Linked DNA regions of Homo sapiens. The protein of the gene in region 1 purifies or fractionates together with the protein of each later gene. This does not show direct contact. Each region holds a gene or a part of one and is shown on either strand. Other genes may lie near its edges.

Region 1 (6,861 bases):
GTGCTGAGCTCAGCCTCTCTGGCCTGAGAACTCTCAAGCCCTTTCTCAAGTGTTTGCTCCTTCAGGTGTATCCTCCTCTGATGCTCCAGCCATCACTCCACTGCTCTTCCTGTCCTTGCCCAAACCCTCTCTCTCTCCACTGCTCTTCTTTTCCCTGCCCAAACCCTATCTTTCTCTTCACCTCAGCTAATTCTTGCAGATCCTTCTTTCTCTCCATTTCCTCTTCTACTTATATAGCTTGCGATAAAGATAACTTTCATGTGGTTACAGCCAATGAGTAGTTTTCATTCTTATCTCTTTTTTTTGTAGAGAAGGGGTTTCACCACATTTCCAGGCTGCTCTTGAACTCCTGAGCTCAAGCGATCTGCCCACCTTGGCATCCCAAAGTGTCGATTACAGGCGTGATGTGGTTTGGCTGTGTCCCCACCCAAATCTCATCTTGAATTGTAGCTCCCATAATTCCCTTGTGTTGTGGGAGGAACCCAGTGGGAGATAATTAAATCATAGGGGTGGTTTCCCCCATACTGTTCTCATGACAGTGAATAAGTCTCATGAGATCTGATGGTTTTATAAGGGGAAACCCCTTTCGCTTGGCTCTCACTCTTTTCTTGTCTGCCACGATGTGAGATGTGCCTTTCACCTTCCGCCATGATTGTGAGGTCTCCCCAACCACGTGGCACTGTAAGTCCATTAAACCTCTTGCTTTTGTAAATTGCCCAGTCTTGGCTATGTCTTTATCAGCAGCATGAAAAAGGACTAATACAAGCCATGAGCCACCACACCCAGCCTTCCTTATCTCTTTTGACTTCTGCAGCTTTTAGCAGAGTTGACCACTTTCTCCTTGAAATATTCTCTCATTTGACTTCCTGGACACTCGACTTTTTTTGATTCTTCTCCCTTTCTATACTTCTCGCCACCCTCTATCTGTCTCCCATACAAGCTCACCTTCAAGGCTTGGTTCTAGACCTCTCTTCTTCTTACCTTACAGTCTCTCCCCACAGATCTTGTCCTCATCCAGATATTCAGTTCATCCACTTGGGATTCTTTCCAACTTCTTCTCAAAATGTGATCTTGTCAGTTCCCTGCAATAAACTTGCCAATGGCATTTTAGGATAAAGACAAAGTAAAATAAAACATAGAAATGCCTTACCATGGCCTACAAGGCCTCTTTGGGCTCTGCCACCACCCTAATTCCCATTTCCCTCTCCTGCACCAGCTGCATTTGCTTCCTGTCAGTCCCTGGTGCTCTACTGGTTTCTACCATGTGGTCTTTGAAGACTGTGGGCCAGATTCCATGCCCAAAATGCTCCAACTTTTAGGCCTAAGTGTCACTTTCTCAAGGAAACTTTTCTAACCTTCACGAATACATGAAGCCTCCTGTCCCCATTACATGATTTCATGGCACCATGGACTTTTACACTTGCGCACAAGTGGTACAACAGCTGCAGCTGTTCACGTGTTGTTTCTGTCTCAACACTACATGGACAGACTGGTCACCACAGTGTTCCAATGAACTGCTTCCCTATCCTTCACCCAGCTGCCTTCACTGCCTCTAGGAGGCATTCCTGGGCAGGTGGCCTTCTGTGTGCTCTTCCACAGCACCCTGCTCCGGACGCTACTGCAGCACTTATTATGCTCTTACAAGTTCTTCATTCTTCCAACCAGTAGGAATTTTGTTGCTGTTTGTTTGAAGTTCAAGCTGTGTATCAGGCATACTAGGCACAGATCTGCTAAAACAACACTTCTTCACACCTCTGTTTGGATCACAGATCAACTCAGAACCTGAGAGTCACAGACTCTCTTTCCAGAAGAAAAGACCCACGCTCACAACATTTCGCAAATGATTTTAGCAGGATTCATGGACACCCTGCAGCCCGGCCATGAATGACCTGCACTAGATTTACAAGCGTTGGGAAGGCAGGAACTGAACGGTGTTCTGCTTTATTCCCTGCACCCAGCAAAGAACTTGTTCCACAGAGAGACAAAATTAGTATTTGTCAGGTGAAACTGAGTGAACAAGTGGATGCGGTACATTAATGCAGTGGGTAAAACTGGGTTAGCAGAGCCAGACTGCCTGATTCCTGGACAACAGTTGTGTTGTGACTTGAAGAAGTTACTTCACCTCTCTGAGCCTCAGTTTGGCATCAGGAAAATGGTGATACTATCTCCTGGGTGACTGCAAAGATCAAACGAGTTAATACCATAAATCACTTAGAATATGCAGAAAACTCTTCACATATACTAAATCATTAAATCATCACAACAACTCATTTTAAAATGAGGAAACAGACGCAGGTAAAGGAACTTGCCCAAGGTTACTCAGCTAAAAAAAAAAACAAAAAACAAAAAACCGGCAGAATTTGGACTCAAACCCCACAGGTTGGCTCCAGAGTCCTGCCTGCTCTTAGCCCTGTGCCCCCACATATAGCAATGCTTTTGGTAAATGTTTGTTAAATCACAATGTGGGCTGTTCTAGGATGCTTGTTTCTTAAGCATTTTTGGGGAGTGAAATTCACTTCTGTAATACACAGTTATGGTTAGTATGGTCTTCTCTACACCACCACTGGTTTCAATAAAGTTCTTCTTTCGTAACACATATGCCCTGCTGCCAGTTTCAAATTGACCAACGTTTATAAGCAAGGAAAAACGAGGGTCCACGGAAGATCTCCAGGACCGATCAAAAGGCCGCACATTCACTGTGGGGCCTCCGCTTTTCCAGAGAAACCCGGCAGGCTGAGCTGAGCGTCTGGCGAGGCGTGGGGTTTTGCGGGCCCTGACCGCTGCGGCGCCGCTGGTGAGGAACACGCCCAGGAGCAGAGGAAGGGGGCGACTCACCCGTCGGCGTCAGCTCCAAGCAAGGCACAGGGAGTCCCGGGGGCCAGGCCCCGTCCTTCCCTCTCTCTCCGGCCAGCCTCCCCACAGTCCGCAGTCCCCGAGGCCTGGAGCCGGGATTTCGGTCCTCGGTCTCAAGAAGCTCCCGACAGTTCTCAGCAGCGCCAACCAGGCCATCAGTCCCTTCGCCCATGGCCAATCAGGGCTCGGGAGATGACCGCCAACCCCCGCCCCCCCAAGACACGCCCCCGCGTCCCAACGCAGCCAGTCAGAGCGCGGGACACAACTACGCGTCCCTCCCCGCACCACGAGGGCGAGTCGGAGTGGGAATCGGCTTTCCAGGCAGCCCAGCCTGTGCTGGCGGGGGCATCTGGCATTTTCACACCCTTTCCTTCCCAGCATTTTAGGAAGCGGAGTTCCAGTAGCTTTGACGCTTAGAAAATATAAGAAAAAAAAGAAGTAACAGAAACCGCTATATCTTTAAGATAGAGCCAATCACTGTTCCCAAAATAATTCAGTTAGGTAAAGAACCAACTTACAAAAGAAATGTTTAAAAAACCCCCAAAGTTCTTTGAAACACATCTGAACTCTTCCCCGCCCCCACCCTACCCCAGCAGTTAGCGACTGTCTTTAAAAGCCATTCTCCTTTCTCTCCCTCCTTGCCACCTTCACCTAAATACTCCCCTTTTCTGATAAACTGCCAAGTGGTTTCCATTCTAATTATTACCGGTGATGCCCAACCTCATACACTAAACACGTTAATTTCTCCTTAAAGCCAGGCTGAATGTCTCTCTCATTTATTTTCACATTTATCCATCCAAAAAACAAGTATTTATGGCAGGCCTGCTAAGTGCCAAGCATATTGAAACAGCAATGAGAAAATAGAGGGGGAATAAAACACATTCCCTGTCCTTATGGAGCTTACATTCTAGTGGAGGGCAGAGATATCAACAACTAATAACGTGACTAATCACACCTAGTTAAGTGTTATCGAGGACAGGGTGCCCTGAGCTGGGCCTGGTGATTCTGTTTGTGTGGAGTTGGAGTCAGGAAAACTGGTTTTCCCAGCTGGAGGTGTCTGCTGTCAGGTGTTCGTAGCACACTGTGCACAGTTCTGCCGTCGGTGGCACTGGCATACAGACTGCCCTCGCACCCTGTGGAGTGAATTCCTTGAGGCTACTGATTATTTTTTCTGTCAACAATGCTGGGCACACAGTAGGAACTCAGGAAATGTTAACTAAATCTTTGAGTCTAGTCTCACTATGCAGTTTAGGCTCAACAGGCTATATTGAGAGGAGCTCACACGTGCATTTAACTCCACTGAGTAGCAGCAAGAATCCTGGCTCCTCAAGATCACCCACCTCTGATCTCTAGGATATTCTAGAATGATCTGAGCAACTCATGTGTACAGCTGGGGGGTGTTTGTCCAGCAACTCCTGAGTTATCCGAATATAAAAACTCTATTATGCATAGATTTATTGCACACTTTTTCCTGAAATAAAATGATTTGGGGTCCAGACTAACCAAAGTGTGTCATTTGCACTTAGGAAAAGGAAATTAGGATACAGAAAAGGAAGTTAAGGAATGTAAACTCAGGACTTAGAACTGCAAGCTGCCATCACTGGTCAGGAGGGAGGGAGCAGAAATGTGCACCAGGGTGCTGGAAGCTTGTATTAGGGCTCCACGTAATTGTGCAAGGAATTACAATACATATGACCCCGTGCATTGTAATCAAAACTTGAAACTGACAAATCAGCTATGCCAACTGTATTAAATAAATGCTACTCAAAGTTTTTTCCAGCCCAAATATTTAAACAGTGCATTTCTAGGACCATATAATCAGAAAAAAAACCTTGAATGAAGAAAAGGGGAAAAGAACTTACAATTATGCATATTATGTACAAGAAAATTACAAACACATTTGAATTGTGAGAAGATCCTGAAATTTCTAGTATGTAAGAGATGCATTAAAAATACTGATAGACTTTTATATCTCAAATTTACTTATTTATTTTAAGCAAATATGAAAAACATAAGGACTTTGTACAGTTCATTCAAAACCCTGGTTCTCTCAATATAATTTTCCCAAGTTGTCAGTACAGTTTTTGGCAATAAGAATTGAAGAAGTATTTGCTGAATGAGTAAAATGTCTTAAATCCCTTAACCACAAGTAGGATTTCTAGTTAAGGGGAGAACACTGATTCGAACATCATGTATCTGCTCAAGTAGAGCATGATGACTGATGCCTTTTCTTTCCCTTTCAGTGATTCATTTTGACCACTATTTACACCAAACTGAAAAAGCTTTCCAAAAAACTCCCTAATAAAAAAAAAATCCTCTTACATTTATAAATAGCATACCAGTGCTTATGCTGAGATAGTGTTCTTTTACTGTTTATTTATTCACATTAAAACTGAATCTTTGGCCGTGCGCGGTGGCTCATGCCTGTAATCCCAGCACTTTGGGAGGCCGAGGCCAGCGGATCATGAGGTCAGGAGATCGCGACCATTCTGGCTAACGGTGAAACCCTGTCTCTACTAAAAAATACAAAAAATTAGCCGGGCGTGATGGCACGCGCCTGTAGTCCCAACTACTCGGGAGGCTGAGGCAGGAGAATCGCTTGAACCCAGGAGGCAGATGCCGCAGTGAGCCGAGATCGTGCCACTGCACTCCAGCCTGGGCGACAGAGTGAGACTCTGTCTCAAAATAACAACAAGAAAACTGAAATCTATGACCTCTTGTACGGTGATGGTAAATCTCAGGTCTATGAATTTCTCAACTCTGCACTGTACAACCAGGTCCAAAGAGTAGGATGTGAGGTACACTTACCATAAAAAACAATTAAAATATTACTTCACTTTAACAGTGGTGAAAAAAGAACGATAAAGCACAGGATTTTTTCTTATTCTTTTTCTCGGTAATGGATTTCCCACCTGCCGCCCCATCCCCGAGACAAGGTCTCACCCTGTCATCCAGGTTGGAGTGCAGTGGTGCAATCATAGCTCACTGCAGCCTCAAATCCCCTAGATCAAGCCATCCTCCCACCTCAGCCTCCCAAGTAGCTGGGACCATAGTGCACACCACCACACCTGGCTAATATTTTTGTTGTTTCCTTTTGTAGAGATGGGGTCCCAAGATGTTGTTCAGGCTAATCATTTTTTTTTTTTTGAGACAGAGTCTCACTCTGTCGCCCAGGCTGGAGTGCAGTGATGTGATCTCGGCTCACTGCAAACTCCGCCTCCTGGGTTCATGCCTCAAGTGATTCTCCTGCTTCACTTCAGTTTCCCAAAGTGCTAGAATTATAGGCATGAGCCACCCTGCCTGGTCTTCTTTACTTTTTTTTTATTTTTATATTGATTTTTTAAAAATAGAGATGGGGTCTTGCTAAGTCTCCAGGGCTGGTCTCAAACTCCTGGCTTTAAGTGATCCTCCCGCCTCAACCCCACAAAGTGCTGGGATTACAGGCAATGAGCCACCACACCCAGCTCAGATGAGGTCTTGATCTGTCCACCCAGGCTGGAGTACAGTGGCACAATCATAGCTCACTGCAGCCTTGACCTCCTGGGCTTCAGTGATCCTCCCACCTCAGCCTCCAAAAGTGCTGGGATTATAGGCGTGAGCCACCACACCTAGCCTCAGTAATGGAATTTATTGATCATTGTTAATTCACTATCCAGGATATTTTTAAAAATGCATATCATCTAAAATGTTATCGTTTCTGTATTTTTACTCAACTTTTATCTTCAGTTATCTTTAAATTATCATACTAAATATCTATCATGATTAATGATGGGAAAATGAAAAGCCACTGGTTATAATTCAGAATGGCAAGAACTAACCTACTAGAGAACACTAAAGGGATAATAACAATACTAATAAAAATAATGGCAGCTAACCAGAGCTGTGGCATACAGCTATGCAGACTGTGCACTGTACACGACAGGGGGTGACACAGCATGGCAGCCCTGTGGCTAACACTGAGTACCCTATCACATGCCAGCTCATAAGTATTTTACATGGAACTGAACT
Region 2 (7,505 bases), on another chromosome or scaffold:
AATGTTAAAAATGTGACCCAAGATCTATTTTCTAAATGACCACAAAGAAGACTCTATGGCTGGGTAAGTTCTGGTAAGAGGTAGGATTTTCCCTATTTTGAGGTGGGTACACAGGTTGTTGGGATTTTTGGCAATCTACTCAGAAAATTTAGTTGCCACACAAAAATCTATAGAGGTTATAAGGGGATTTAGGTATAGTGAGTCAAATCCTATTCTAATAGGAATGGTCTTTATTAAAATACCAGACATACCTACAGCTTTCTTTGGTATTTCTCCCAATGACCTCAGCCTTAGGGACACACCCTAAAGTAGGCTTTTTAGAAGCAACAGCTGAGCCGCGACCACTTACCTAAAAGAATAATCCTCTGTGAATATGTCCAGGAAATCCTGCTCTTAGGGTGCATATTTCCAATGAGTTGCAATTCACAAATAATTTCTCAGCAGTTCAAAGAAAATTTGGGCATAATATTTTCTCTGTTAACCCAACCAAATGTCCTTCCTCGTTATACCCTTAATGATTTCATGCTCTGCCTCAATAGTGCTACTCAGAGTTAATTATGAACAAAATCTAGAGTAAATGCTACAATTAAGATTTTCCTTTTTATACCCTGGCAGATAAGCACAATGCATGATCACCACCATTCACACTTCAACCTCAGCAGAGACTGAAGGGTGATTGCTAATGGTTCTGTTGATGTCTATAGCATTAGAAATTTGAGCATCAATCAACCCGGTGTTTTGAAAAATACATTGCCTAATTTTTTTTCAAAGCAACCGAAGAATGTAACCATAACCAATGATGCCACCTCCCACCAACGGCCACCACCCACTATTTAAATTACCTTCCTCCAGTTCATCCATGCTTCCGATCTTCCTGGATCCATCAATGGTGTAAATGTAACGCACTCCCTGAGGCAGGTTGATGTTGTCAGACAGAGATCGCGTCAGGTCAGCCAGCAAGGCGTCAAAGCTGCGAAAACGGTCAGAGGACACAGCGTACACAATCCCCTTGAAGTAGCGGTCCCCATTGCGGTAGAAACGTACCTTCTTGGCTTTCTTCTCATTACTCAGTGCCTGCAAGGTTCTGGTTCGGTAGAAGCTACAGTGGGCGCTGTGAGTGGGGCTAGGCAACCCATTCATCCGGGAGCCTCGCATGTTCCTGGATGTCTTATCTCTTTCGTCAAAGTGTCCAAAATCAAGTTCCATATTTTGGTGGAACCTCAGAGACCTGAGCGTGGGAGAAAGGGATGGGGGTGAAGAGAGGCAAAAACAAAAAGGGACAAGGAGAAGGAAAAAAGAAGGGATTTTAAATATTAGCCAGATCCAGATCTGCAATCTGCTGCTTGTGAAAAGAACTGGTTGAAAAAAGCCTGTGACCCATCTGCTGCTTGCCCCTGACCTGCAGGAATATTGATCTTAATAGAGAAGAAGGAGGGGCTGGGCGGGGGTGCTGGTGGTTGTGGGGGTTGGGAGTAAGAGATAGAGAGGGAGGCACTCTTGGCACTGTTCCAGACAGAGGAGAAGGGGAGATTTTGAAATAGCTGAAAATCCTGAGACTTACTGACAGTGGCTCCTATCAAATTGGAACTTCGGGCTAAATACATTAAAACTGGCATCTGTTTCCTCACACATGCCCACATGACTAACAGTTGTAAATGAATCCATAGCCTGACAAAATTCCCCTTGAAGAGAACAGAAGGAGCTACCCAAGGTTAGCATCTCCAGCTTAGGAAGCAGTCTTTGCATTTCAGTACAATGACTATGAAGGGGGAGTGTTTTCATTTTATTCCAAGCCCTCTTTCCTACTCTAATGTGTGCATCCCCTCCCCCCAGAATAAACTAAGATTCTCCTTTAAAGGGACAGCCTCCAGGGAACAGCCAGTGTCTTTGTGCTATTCATCAAACCCTTTCCCCACCAAGCTGGTGCAGCTATCCGACATTCATAAGAAATAAGCTGGGGGGAAAAAGGATTAGAAAAATAAGTTATTTAACAAGTTACTAGCTCTGTCTTCCCCCGGTTCCATTTGTTCACAAAATCCTTTTTTTTCCCCCCCAGGTGCTCCACCCCCTCCCCACTGATGCAGCAACACCTCTTAATGGAATAATTTAATTGTTGAAAGATTCACAAATGACTCTCCGAACAGCATACGGGACCTTTAGAAGGAAGCACACCTTTCATTGTTCTGGGTTTCTACCTTAATTGAAGTGACATTTACCCTCACAGCAGGCAATTCACCCCAAACTTGTATATTGCCCAGGTGCATTAGCTGAGAAAAGATGGTCATTTGTCAGGCTTTGCTTTTCTCCCTTCTGTTGAACCCCCTCCCCCACCAAGAACCCCAAACAATCAAAACATGAAACCCAATACAACTGAAGCCACAAATGCTAGCAAATGTAGTGACATCCTACGAGCCAAACTATTAACATGCATCTCACAGATGGGGATAAAAGGACTCACAAAGCAAGCAGGGCTCAGCTGCTACACACTGCCACATCAATATATTTGCAAGGGACCAGGAGGACAGGAGATAAGAAAGACTGGTGCCTAATGGGTCTGCCAGGCTCAATTCCGCCTTTTTTCCAATGTCACCATGACCTATGCTGAGCTCAGCATTGTCTCTGTCAGACAACCTGCAGTGGTAAGAGACCCCACCTCCTCAAGGCAAGCAGCAAACATTTCCCCAGGCATGCCAGTAAGGCTTTGCTTTGCTTTAGGATCAGAGGTAGTATTATTCTAAATTAACATCACAGTGAAAACAAAGGAACATCAAACTCACTTTTCCAAAGGAAAATCCCAGGTAGAAGCTTAGGGAAAAAATCGGATAGAATAAGGCAAAAAAGGAGAAGAGGAGACAGAGAGACAGAGAGAGCAGGCTTTGCCTTGTGCTTTTCCCGTTTGACATCTGTTACATTCTTCTTGAAAATCACTTAAAAGCCCCACTCACCGGTTTTCTGCTGGTTGGGTGGAGATGCTGAGAGAAAGAAAACCAATCTCTCTATGCCTTTGTTGTCTGAGCTCCAAGCAAGAAATTCCTGCCAGGGTGGATAGATGCCTTCTAGGTCCTAGTGCCTTGTCCAGCTTCTCCCATGTAACTCAGGCTTAGTGAATCCCCCCAACCTCCTATGATTAATTACATGCTTTTAAAAAAATTCACAGGCTGCATTAACAGCTAGAAAGGTTTCATTTATAACCAACAGGAAATTGCGGGGTAGCAAAAAGATTGCGCAGACAAAATCAGAATGCTCTAATGAGCAATGTGCTAGCCCTTTCTTTTAGAAAATTGGCAATTTCACTTGGCCAAAACCTTGGCCTAATCTGCCTGGGGGCCAGACTCAGACAGCCAAGCCAGGCTTCTTAGAAATTGTAGCTCTCTTCCTTTTACCCTCTTGAGAGAAAAAAAATAAAATAAAATCTGCAGATTCTTTAAGGCAGTTTAGCTCAAGTATCCAACAACTGGTTTTTTGTTTTTTAATGAAGTCAACAAAGTAGACTAAGAGGAAGTAGGATAGGAACAAAACAAGGGAAAATAATTTTAGAATATTATGGAAGATAGAAGTAAAAAGGACATCCCAAATCTATCAGCTTGGTGTAAGAATTTGGTTAATGAAAGGTTAATGTGGCATTTACCTTTGAGAGTTTGGAAGTTCAAACCCAACCCAAAGACCTTTCTATGTGAAGTAAATCTGATGGCTACAAAATAAATATTAACAGATTTCTCCTCAAACTGCTTATTTGTCACTAACTGACTTCTTTATATAAAATATGTTACAAAAAAAACTCAAGGAAGCATCCAAATTGAACTAATTAGATCAGGCCGAACTATAAAACAAAAGAGAAAGGTGAGAGGTTAAATGGGGTAGGGGGATGCTACCATCTTCACAATTGAAGCTACATGCATCAATATGTAGCAGCCTTGAACTATCATGGTTCTATTTTTGCTTGGCTTCCAGGAAGCTCAGAGCTAAGAGCATGCTCAGTAATTATTTTATATCTGATTCCTAGTATAATTAACCCTTCCTTTTATATAGTGCTGTTGAACTTTTATATTTAAGCATTTTCTCTGCATGTGTTTTATTGTAAGCTGCCACCAAGTGGGATAAAATATATGATGGTCTTTCTTCTGTGAAAGGTGTTGACTCAGCAAAGCCTGGAACTGTCTGTTAGTTGAGTGGATAGCCTCAAATGTGCAACCTACCTAGTTAAGTCCCCCCAACACCTTGCTGCTGATTTCTTGGTTACTATACAAGTACCTCAGGGGAATGCATGTGTCTGCCCTGTTTTCTTCCATGTGTTGTTGCCTTACCTTGTGGCAACCTCATGAAAAATCAACATTATTCAGGCTAGAGGCAAAGAAAAATCAAGGAATAAGGGCAGGAAAATATGGAAATTCCAACAAAGCTAATGTCTTAAAACTTCTTTCTTGCACATCATAAGCATTCAGTAAATATGTAGCAATTAATTTTGCATCAGAACTAAAAATCATTTTATTTCTGGTGAAGATACAACAATGGATGGGATAATAAAACTTAAACACGAACCATTTGGAATGTATTTCAGAGGAAAATTCCTCATAATATAGGCTTTGCAATGCTACTGTGGAAGCTACAAAATGTTTTTATGAGACAGCCTAGGATAAATGACTTTGTTTGCTTTATATATAATAGAGAGCAGAGGGATAGGCAGGATCAATATTTCCTTGTTTGAGATATGTGGGCATTAATAGGTGTTCCTTAAAAACAGGAAAAAAAATTCTGTGGTCAAAAATGTCTGAAAAGTGTTGCGCTAAACGAAGATAATTTTGCTTATCATAAAACTTGTCAGGGCCTTTAATATAAACTATAAAATGTGTCTCAAAAAGAAAACAATTTGGTATACAGGGCTTCCACTTATTTTTAAAGCTCAGAACCTTTTGGTCGCCCCAGAACATGGACTAATGTTCTGCAGGGATAAAAAACTTTTGCAAAAACTGGACTAGATCATCTCCAAAGATATTTCTTCTCAAAGAACTCTCAGCTACTTACCAAGACCTTCTTTCTCACTTCTTCAGAGGAAACAGGCCATTGGCAAAGAGAAGGTCTCAGATGTGAGTCCAGGGAAAAAGTAAATCTTTAAATATGGAAATCAACTTTGAAGGTCAAGGGAAAGTCACGGTTGAGGGAGTGAAGTGATTTAAGAAAAAGAATAGCAACTCTATGTTGGAAATGTAGCAATACGACCTTTTGATTACTTACCATGTGCCCTGTACCACAGGCAAGACAGTGTAGGAAACATCCATCACTGCCCCTGAGGGGCTTGACGACTCATTGAGGAAAGGAGATAGCACAGGACTATGCATCTTGCAAAAATCATGAAGAAGGGATTAGATCTTTCTTGATATACTGCAGTCTGGGTTAATCAAACTCAGCTTAAAGAGCAGGGTCAAGAAATTTCTCATCCATCTCTCTCTCTCTCTCTCTCTCTCTCTCTCTCTCCCTCTCTTTTACTCTCTCTCTCTCTCTCTCTCTCACACACACACACACACACACACACACACACACACACACACAAAATACCAAAAAAATTATTAGTTTATGTTACCAATCAGAAGCACAAAGAGTAGGATCCTGTGTGGGACAGAGTAAGCAAACAGGAAACGAGGTTGGACTTTCCCTTGACCTTCAAAGTTGACTTCCATATTTAAAGATGTACTTTTCCCCTGGACTCACATCTCATATCACAAGATTGCTTATGCATAGGGCCTTTATTGAGAAAATCATAAAACTATTGAAAAACATAACAGAAGCTGTTAATAAATGTAAAGTCAGACCAGGCTCATGGATAACAAGATGCAATGCTGTAAGGTATCAATCCTCCCCAAAGTAATCTATACATATGAAGAAATTCCAATAAAAGCCCCAACACGAATTTTTGTGAAACTCAAAAAATTACTTCAAAATTTTTGTGGAAGAATATAAAACTCTAAGAGTAGCCAAGATCATTGTAAAAAAGAGAAATCAGAAGCCAATAACTGCCCTACAAAAATTTGTTATAAAGCTATAGTAATGAAGATAGTGTGGTGTTGGCCTGGAGGACAGACAAAGATTAATTAAACAAAACAGAGATCAGCATAAACAGGAACTTGCTATATCATAAGATAATGGGAAAAGCATGGACTCTGGAGCCAGACTGCCTAGGTTCAAATTTTGATTCTACTAATTATTAGCTAGGGACCTTGGGTGAGGTACTTAACCCTCTGTGCTTCACTTCACCCATCTGTCACACGAAGGTGATGATAATAATAGTAGCATTCTCAGTTGTTATGAGGATTAAATGAGCAAATATATGTATAGTGTTTAGAACAGACCCTGGCACATAGTATGTATAAGTATTAACTTTTATTATCCCCCGAATATTCATATGCCAACTCCCTCACTTCTTTCAAGTCTTCACCCAAAGGTTGACTTCTCAACAAGACCAACCTAGACTACCTGATTTAAAGTTACAAACTTCCCTCTCAACCTAGCAGTTCAAAATTTTTTTACTCTCTTTATTTTTCCATAACATTTATCACCTCCAACATACTACGTAATATACTTATTAATTACATATTTCCTGAAGGTATAATATAAGCTTCAACAGGGTAGGAATATTCTAACAGCTTTAATGATATATATAATTTACATTACCAATAGGACTACTTTTGTCTATATTTTTAATATTGCATAATTAACTTTCTAGAACAATACCTAACACACAATAGGTTTGGATATTTGTTGAATTGCATAAAGTAAGGAACACATAGAGTATTCAATAGATAGTATTAAGTCAATTAACTTTCATATAAAAAAAATCAAATTAGATACTCCCCTTATACTATACATAAAAATAATCTCCAGATGTTTTAAAGACCTGAATAAAGAACAAAACTTTAAAATTATTGGAAGGAAGCATAAAAGGTTTCCTTTAAATCCTTACGGTAGAAAAGAATTTCTTAAGACACAGAAAGCAGAGATCTTATAAGAAAATATTGATAAATTGATTTCATAAACATTTACAGCTTCTAACGGCAAAAGACAGCATTTAAACATTAAAAAATAAATAATAGACTGAGAAAAAATATTTGAAACTTAAATATCTGACAGAAAGTTAGTGTCCTGATATCTATATATGACACATAGATATTGATATAGTTTGTATTTTTGTCTCTGCCCAGTCTCATGTTGAATTGTAATCCCCAATGCTGGACCTGGTGGGAGGTATTTGGATTGTGGGGGTGGATCCCCCATGACTTGGTGCTGTCTTCCTGATAGTAAGGTCTCCTGAGATTTGGTCTTTTAAAAGTGTGTGGCACCTCCCCTCCAATGCACTCATGCATGAGTGTTCTTTCTCTCTCGCTCACTCTCGCTCTCTTGTTCTCTCGCTCTCTTGTTCTCTCGCTCTCTTGTTCTCTCGCTCTCTTGTTCTCTCGCTCTCTTGTTCTCTCGCTCTTGCTCCAGCTTTTGCCATGTGAAGTGCCTGCTCCCAC

Evidence for each region. Proteins that work in one complex are often made in the same cells at the same time.
Region 2: the proteins of MTERF2 (region 1) and DCX purify together in Homo sapiens (affinity purification with mass spectrometry; 2 studies listed by BioGRID and IntAct, with this or other methods). This does not show direct contact.

The regions. Positions count from the first base shown.
Region 1 is NC_000012.12:106,984,134-106,990,994, forward strand, and holds the start of MTERF2 (transcription termination factor 2, mitochondrial precursor), read right to left. Parts: upstream 3,014-6,861; 5' UTR 2,836-3,013; intron 2,177-2,835; exon of another isoform or gene 1,093-2,176; 5' UTR 982-1,092; intron 1-981. UniProt on the Homo sapiens protein: Binds mitochondrial DNA and plays a role in the regulation of transcription of mitochondrial mRNA and rRNA species.
Region 2 is NC_000023.11:111,409,193-111,416,697, forward strand, and holds the start of DCX (neuronal migration protein doublecortin), read right to left. Parts: upstream 3,001-7,505; 5' UTR 2,946-3,000; exon of another isoform or gene 2,778-2,945; intron 1,955-2,777; exon of another isoform or gene 1,783-1,954; coding exon of another isoform or gene 1,562-1,782; intron 1,229-1,561; coding exon of another isoform or gene 1,207-1,228; coding exon 843-1,206; intron 1-842. UniProt on the Homo sapiens protein: Microtubule-associated protein required for initial steps of neuronal dispersion and cortex lamination during cerebral cortex development. May act by competing with the putative neuronal protein kinase DCLK1 in binding to a target protein.